Regions from separate parts of the Homo sapiens genome. Here region 2 is linked to region 1. The links come from fine-mapping of genetic effects on gene expression. A gene starts in region 1. The other region holds a variant in brackets. All regions are shown on one strand. Distances are from middle to middle.

Region 1 (4,234 bases):
AAACTCTACTATCTCAACTCTCCCAAAAATTAAATACATAAATTAATAAGTCATCCATCAGGGTCAAAAGCAAAAGAATCAAGTCAGCAAACAAAACATAAAAGAAGCAAATATATGCCTTTCTGTTATTAAACCCAACTCTGCCAATTTAGTTTCAACAAAAGACACTGTCTATTGCATTAAACCAATATTAGTACTTTTTTTTTTTTTTTTTGAAATAAAGTCTTGCTCTTTTCGTCCAGGCTGGAGTGCAGTGATGTGATTTCAGCTCACTGAAACCTCCGTCTCCTGAGTTCAAGCGATTCTCCTGCCTCAGCCTCCTGCATAGCACCAGTCACCATGGCCAGCTAATTTTTGTATTTTTTTTTTTTAGTAGAAATGGCGTTTCGCCATGTTGGCCAGGCTGGTCTCAAACTCCTGACCTCAGGGGATCGGCCTGTCTTGGCCTTCCAAAGTGCTGGGATTACAGGCGTGAGCCACCAAACCCAGCCAATGTTAGTACTTTTAATGTTACTGGTTTTATAATTCTGTATGTAACAGAAAAAGCATATTTGTGGGTTTTCTGCAAATTAATTGAGATCTTTAGCTATAAATAAACTAAAAGATTATGAAGTTTATACTTCGCTCTATTTTTGTACACAAATGAAGTTAACATCAAAACAATTAAACACTGGGGGTTAATGTCAATAACTTTTTTGTTTCTTCTAAAAGGCCAAGGTATTAGGAGTTAAAATGAAAACAGAGAGAAAGGTAAGCTCCCTGAAAGCAGAAATCTGTCTTGTTCTCTGTGGTATGCCTAGCCCCCAGCTCAATATTTGCTGAATAAAGGAAACATATTAACGAGATAGCAAAACCGACGAAATTATCACCTCATTATCAACTAAAAGAGAAGAATCCTGCGGGAAAAGTTATATAGGACAGACACATCTTGGCTGGGAGGCAAGAGAAAAAAGTAAACTAAAATATACTGGCTGCAGGGCATCTTCCTAAATGCTATATGGTGACCCTGTGAAGACATCGTCCCACTTCACAGATGAGAAAAACAGCTTCAGAGAAACTATGAATCTTACCAAAGGTCACTCGTCTAACTTCCCTAACCCCTCCTGTCACCTGCCCCTTCCCTTCCATCCCTCCGGTTGATGACTTTATCTTCATTTAGGAAACTGAAGAGTGGGCTGGAACTCTCTCACTCATCTTCCCACCACCAATCTCTAAACTCATCTGAATCTGCAACTGTATTCTCTGTCCTCGCTCCTGTTACAACTGAAGAAGCCTTGCTGTACGTACCAAAGGTCAATCCATCCATTGGTTGCCCTTGATCCCATCCATCCTCTGTACCTTCATAAAGGCTCCATCTGTCTATGGCTTTAGCTTTAGGACCCTAGCCTTTTCTAATTCCTCAGTTTCGGCTCCCCAGATGTAGTTTGCCCCAAAACATCTAGTGACTGGTGTTTAAGACATAGTACAGGACGCAATGGCTCACGCCTGTAATCCCAACACTTTGGGAGGCCGAGGGAAGAGGACTGCTTGAGCCCAGAAGTTCGAGACCAGCCTGGGCAATACAGTGAGACCCCCGTCTCTACAAAAAATTTAAAAATGAGTCGAGCTTGGTGGCGCCCGCCTGTAGTCCCAGCTACTCGGGAGGCTGAGGTGGGAGGACTGCTTGAGCCCAGGAGGTGGAGGCTGCAGTGAGCCGAGATCGTGCCACTGCACTCCAGCCCGGGAAACAGAGCGAGGCCCTGCCTCAAAAAAGAGTACAGGATGAACGGTCAAAGAACACAGTTAAAAGCACAGACGCTAACTACTATGTCACAGAGTGGCGTGAAGACCAAATAAAATAATGTCAATAAAGAGCTGAGCATCGCATCTAGCACATAGTGAGCACCCAATAAACGTCAGCCATCATCGTCGTCATCGCAGCATCTGCTGCTGTTGTTGTTAAACATGTTTAATTGAGGCTGAAAAAACAAACAAAAAACAATCAAGCAGAGATGACCGCCCCGGGCTTCACTGACAGCTCTGGGAAAGTTTCTAAAGTTTCTCGAGGGCTCTCAAGCCGAGGCCACGGCAGCGTGTACCCTGGGCACCGGTGTCTGCGACAGAGAGAGACAGATTCACACGAACATACTTTCGGTCCATCAACCACCTTTCTCCTTCCTCCTTCCTCCTTCCGCTTCCCTCAATCCCAAACTGAGGTCCCAGGGACCTCCCCGAGCTCACCAAGGTCCTTGTCGTTGATCCCCAAGTGATTGTCCAGCTCAGTGCAAACCTTTGACACCAAAGACAGGTACTCGAGTTTGGCAAGTTCTTCCGCGGGGCCTGGCTCCGACCCGATTAAGGCTCCCGCCATGGCTACAGCCACAGCCATGGCTATAGCTTGCCCAGAACCTCCTTCCTCACAGCCGGCGCTCAGAGCTACTCCGGCCGGGTTCCAGCTTTCACTTCCGGGTCAGCGCGCGTCCCCTTTGTTTACGGTAAATTGAAAATTTGAGGAACGAATCAAGTCCCAACAGGATGGATCATAGAGATCAAACAGGAAGTGCTTAAGGAAGGGACAACTAGAGTGGGTTACTCTGCACGCCGATCTGCGCCCTCTACAGGCGAGAAAAATCTCCGCCCGCCCTCAGGCCTGGAAACGTTCACTCAGCGCGCTCCCGCCCTGGGTCGGCAGAGGGCGACCCCGGCCTGCACAAGAGGCGCCGGGAGGCAACCGCAAAACAGCCTGCGCCTGCGCTTTAGAACACTTGAAAAAGGAATCTTAATGCACGTCTGGAAAAAGACAAACTTGCTTTACTGTGGATCCGCAAATTCCCGGCCTCACTTCTTTGTGGTTCCTGTCGTCCGATCTCAAGTGACCCTTGACAAGCCAGTAGGCAGTAGATTGCCTTCTCTTGTTTTACACACGAAGAAACTGGCACTTCCACTGCCAGCTGGCTGCTTGGGCAAATCAATCTCTGGGGCCTTAGTTTTCTCATCTGTAAACTAGAATAATGTTGCTCTACCCTAAATGGAATAACTGCAAGGAGTGTGACACAGAGTAGGCACACCGCAAATGACAGTTACTGTTAATATCACAAGGCTAGGCCGGGTGCAGTGGCTCACGCCTGTAATGCCAGCACTTTGGGAGGCCGAGGCTGGTGGATCACTTGAGGTCAGGAGTTCCAGACCAGCCTGGCCAACGTGGCGAAACTCCATCTCTACTAAAAATAGAAAACTTAGCCGGGCGTGGTGGTGGTGGGCGCCTGTAGTCCCAGCTACTCGGGAGGCTGAGGCACAAGAATCGCTTGAACCCAGGAGGCAGAGGTTGGAGTGACCTGAGTTCACACCACTACACTCCAGCATGGGCGACAGAGTGAGACTTTGTCTCAAAAAAAAAAAAAAAAAAATTCAAGGCTGAGATGATGGTCACAGAACTGGCCTCTGGTCTGTCAAGCACAGATCCCCTTAGTCTGGGAACCCACAGAGCCAGCTGCCTCCACTCTTGTGAAAACCTGCTTTTCAATCCCCAGTTTTCCTGTGTCCTCTCAGAACTTATTCCCCCAGGGGCTGGGCACTGTGGCTCACCCCTGTAATCCCAGCACTTTGGGAGGCCGAGACGGGCGGATCACTTGAGGTCAGGAGTTCAAGACCACTCTGGCCAACATGGTGAAACCTCGTCTGTACTAAAAATACAAAAATTAGCTGGGCGTGATGGTATGTGCCTGTAGTCCCAGCTACTAGGGAGGCTGAGGCGGGAGAATTGCTTGAACCTGGGAGGTGGATGTTGCAGTGAGCTGAGATCTCGCCACTGCACTCTAGCCTGTGCGACAGAGTGAGACTCCGTCTCAAACAAACAAAACACACACACAAAAACAACAACAAACCTTATTCCCCCAAATATCAGCTGTGCTGTAAGTCCAAGGTCATAAGCTCAGGTCTCCCAACTTCTGCTTCAGGTCTTTTTTACCTTTGTGGCAACCTTAATGTGGGATGGGGATTTTTCCCACACTCCAGTGCTCTGTGTGATGAGTAAGGAAACAGAAGCACCCTAAAGTGAATGGCTCTCCAATCAATCGGAAGGAGGAAATCAGTCTCCCACTTTTCACTTTGGCAACATTTTTACACTGGTGTACCTTTGGACTCTGTTTCTTCAACATCTCATCATGGACTGAAAAATGACAGGCAGAGAAAAACCCAGCCATTGTTCTCACTGTCTCCAGAAGCTCCAGGTTTCCAGGTTCCTAAGGAATCACTA
Region 2 (4,234 bases), 790 kb after region 1:
CTCCTTTGGGGCAGATAAACAGCCAGGAGCCTGGGGAAACAGGGATGAGAAGGGCATTGGTTTAGGCAGTGAGGCTCGGCCACTCCCTTGGGTCCCATCTGTAGCTCTGCCCACCAAACTTGATGGGGGGGGGATGGGGGAATATCCTCTGGATGAGCAGAGCCAGCTAAGAGGAGCCAAATGTCCCTGATAGGATGGGGGAGAGGCAGGACTGGGGGAATGTCAGGAGCTGGAATTGGTCCCAGAAGCCCTTCTGACTCATTCAGACCTGGACTCCTCCAGGATCTGGGGTAGGTTCTGATCCCGGGGGCCAGGGGCTGGGGCTGGAGTTGGGGCTGGGGCTGGGGCTGAGGCTGGAGCTTGGTTGGGAGCTGCTGTAGGGGTGGGGACCTGGGCAGGGCCTGAAGTGGGTAGGGGAGGTTTGCTGCCAGGATGGTACTCGTGGGCAGCCTTGGGCTCATTGGTATGGTAGGAGCCCTTATAGCGATGATTTTGCAGATAGAAGAGCACCAACATTCCCACCAGCCCCAGCAGCAGAAAGGCCACCAAAACTGAAAAGAAGAAAAGGGACAATTCAGATCTTTGGGATCTCACCTGTATACACACACACACACACACACACACACACACACACGCACTCTTTGAGATTTCACCTGTATACATACACACACTTTGGGATTTCACCTGCACACACACACACACACACACACACACACACACACATTTACTTTTGGCCAAAAGCATAATGTATGACCCTCAGTTAGCTGTTCGACCACACTAAACTCATCTCAAGTGTCTGGCAGGTTTGAATTCCTGGCTTACCCCCTGCCACCTTCTGTTTCTAATATTCTCTTTCCACATCCCTGGTAGTTACCCCAATTTCTTATCTCTCTAGGTGTTACTGTATCCCCATTTTCCCATCCCTTAGCTATAGTCTCATTTTAATATTTTATTTAAAAATCTGTAGCATCCTCAAACATCTAAAAATCTCTGCCCAGTTATATGTCACCTTCAGCATAGCCTGTCTCATCCTCAAACATCTAAAAATCTCTGCCCAGTTATATGGCACCTTCAGCATAGCCTGTCTCATCATCCTTTGTGCCATTGTGCATCTAGTGCCTTTGCCATCCTGCAGCCTTGGGGATCAGGGGCAGGGAAAGGATGCTGACAGTCAGAGGGTAGTCTTGGGAGGTCAGCTTAGTGATCAGTGCTACTCACAGCCTAAAAGTATGGCAACCCATCCTTCATCATGGTAGTAGGGGAAGTCTGGAGAGGAGAAAGCACCAGTTAGGAGATGCCTCCTCCATGTTAAGAATCATTCCCTTCCGTGTCATCCCTCCCTTCTGTCCTCTGTGTCCTGGGAATGTACCTGGGGGCAGATACCAGGGATCAAGCTCAGGTGGCACCTCTGAAACAAGACGTGGCATAGCTCCGCAATTAGATTCGGACAGTTCTCCCTGAACTCGAAGGGCCTCAGCTAGCTCAGCAGTCATGGGTCGAGGGGTTCGGAAGTGGGTCTTGAGGGGAGCCACGTTGTTGAATCGAACACCAGACAGGCAGCCTGAGAAACCTGGGGTGTTGTAGCGCTGGATCTCCGGGTCAATGACTCCTGTCTCTGAGAGAGAGGCAGGCCCAGAAAGAGGGACTTGGACCCAAAGGCCCTGCCACTCTCACTGTCCACAGGTTTCCCACTCATCCTTCCCACTGCCCTCAGCCATTCCCAGGGCCTTCACTTTCCTTGAGGATCCAGGAACATATGCCACAGCTCCTTGCCTAAAACGCGTCCGCACCCGCAGCTTACCCATCACACGCCCTAAATACAAGGCCTTGGGTGAGTCCAACTGGCTGTCCACCAACAGCGAGAACTTCTGCTCTGTCAGTGGGAAGTAGTCCACCTGAGGTGGGGAGGGGGAGGGGGAGGGCGATGAGGGAGCGGGGACCAGAAGCAGATGCCTGTGGGCTGGACTGGAACTGTGTGGACCCTGGGAATATACTTGGGGGCAGATACTGGAGATCTCTCATTCTGTCCAAACTGGCGGTGCCAGCTGGGTGAGTCCTAGCTCAATCTGAAGTGGGCAACCCCTGGGCCTAGATGTAGGATTTGGTATATATATTTTTATTATTATTATTTTATTTTATTTATTAAATATTTTTCTTTGTGAAGATGAGGTCTTGCTATGTTGCTCAGGTTGGTCTCAAACTCCTGGCCTCAAGCAGTCCTCCCACTTCAGCCTCCCAAAGTGTTGGGATTACAGGTGTGAGCCGCTGCACCTGGCCTATATATTTTTTAAAACCCTGGTTTTAAGCCCCATCTTTGCAGCTTACCAGCGGTTTGACTTTGGGTAAACCA[C/G]TTTATTTTTTTGAGATGGAGTCTCACTCTGTCGCCTAGGCCTGGAGTGCAGTGGCACGATCTCAGCTCACTGCAACCTCCACCTCCCAGGTTCAAGCAATTTTCCTGCCTCACCCTCCTGAGTAGCTGAAACCGCTTTACTTTCTGAGGCTCTTTACTGATTTGTAAAACACTTAAATAAGAATGCCTATTGTCTGGCTGGGCGCGGTGGCTCACGCTTATAATCCCAGCACTTTGGGAGGCTGAGGTAGGCGGATCATCTGAGGTCGGGTGTTCGAGACCAGCCTGACCAACATGGAGAACTCCTGTCTCTACTAAAAATACAAAATTAGCTGGGCGTTGTGGCGCATGCCTGTAATCTCAGCTGCTCGGGAGGCTGAGGCAGAAGAATTGCTTGAACCCGGGAGGCAGAGGTTGCAGTGAGCTGAGATCACACCATTGCACTCCAGCCTGGGCAACAAGAGCAAAATTCCATCTCAAAAAAAAAAAAAAAATGCCTATTGTCCCCTTGGAGCTATTGTGAGGGTTACATGAGGTGACACACGTGAAAATCCTCTATACATTCAAATGTGATCTACAAATATTAAGTATTTGATGTTTTCCTGGATGCCACAACGGAGACCATGAGGTTATGATCTGAACTGGCTCACCTCCCTCTATGCATACCTGGATGAAGAGGTTCCGGTAAACACGGGTGATATTGATGCTATGGGGCTGGCCATCGGTCACTGGTCGAGTGGTTAGCTGGTACACGTAGGGACTGGTGCCCAGCTGATATCGCAGCTGAAGGGTCCCTGTGGGGTGGGGAGAAGAAATTTGGGGTCTCAGGCCCCATGACTCCTATCTTCTAACAGCACGTGGGTCCTTGTATTTGTGAATCAATAGGAGAATTAGGGGCACCGGGGTGAAGCTGGAGTGGGGTGAGAGAGCCCGGGAGAGCTTACCATCATCCTTGATGAGCACAGCCATGTAGTCACGAACAAAGGAACTGACGTAGAGCAGGACAGCAGGGGCGGAGCTGGTGCTGAAGCTGAAGGAGACCTCCTCTCCCGTAACGTTGTAGACAGGCCCACGGTAACCGGGCACAGGCCGACCAGGCCGGGGGTAGTCGGGCAGGCGGTACCCGGGGCCATGGTAGCCAGGCACATAGCCCGGAGTATCATAGCCCGGGATGTAGCCAGGCTCATAGCCTGGCACTGGCCGGCTCAGCATGTGGGAGAACTCCCTGGCTGCAGAGCGCAGCGCTGACTGTAGGTTATAGCGCATCCAGGTGCCCGGCTCAAAGAAACCACCAATATCTGCAGGTAGAAGCAGGGAGGTTAGGGCCCCCACACTGCTCACTCCCCAATTCAGAGGTTTTATGTCATCCATACACACATCCTGAGACTTACTTCAGTTTCTGCCACCCTCACAACCCTCCATTTACTTTTAGGTCCCCTTGAGCCCCTCTGTCACAGAACAGAATCTTACAGCCATGGGAAACTGGAGATCATCTGATCCAACCCCTGCATTTTACAAATGGGGAAACAGGCTCAGAGATGAGTAGTGACTTGCTTAAAGACACGCAGTAAGGCCAGGCACAGTGGCTCACACCTGTAATCCCAGCACTTTGGGAGGCCAAGGCAGGCAGATCATCTTGAGGTCAGGAGTTCGAGAACAGCCTGGCCAACATGGCAAAACCCCATCTCTACTAAAAATACAAAACTTAGCTAGGTGTGGTAGTGCATGCCTGTAATCCCAGCTACTATAGGAAAGCCAAGGCAGGAGAATTGCTTGAGCCCAGGGGGCAGAGGTTGCAGTGAGCCAAGATCATGCCACTGCACTCCAGCCTGGGTGATGGGGATATCCTGACCCCATGTAGTATATGTGCCACTACTCACACTT

What was found. PIP is the estimated chance that this variant, and not a neighbour inherited with it, causes the effect.
Region 2: its variant is the best candidate, but not a certain one, in a credible set for the expression of DHX8 in sun-exposed skin (GTEx, PIP 0.87).

What each region holds. Positions count from the first base shown.
Region 1 is chr17:43,482,172-43,486,405 of GRCh38, reverse strand. DHX8 (DEAH-box helicase 8) reads right to left here and starts at 2,431. Exons shown (of 23, transcript NM_004941.3): 1 at 2,221-2,431. The coding sequence starts at 2,368. It overlaps LOC124904112 (U7 small nuclear RNA), which reads left to right; the gene lies at 1-8. RefSeq lists enhancers at 2,167-2,596, 1,896-2,738.
Region 2 is chr17:42,694,935-42,699,168 of GRCh38, reverse strand. CNTNAP1 (contactin associated protein 1) reads right to left here. Exons shown (of 24, transcript NM_003632.3): 19 at 3,295-3,648; 20 at 3,017-3,144; 21 at 1,802-1,895; 22 at 1,370-1,615; 23 at 1,219-1,266; 24 at 1-551. The coding sequence ends at 259. Among named protein-coding and RNA genes, the nearest start is that of MIR6780A, 11 kb to the left of the region's middle. RefSeq lists an enhancer at 1-466 and a cis regulatory region at 1-466. The variant C/G (reference allele first, on the strand shown) is at 2,351.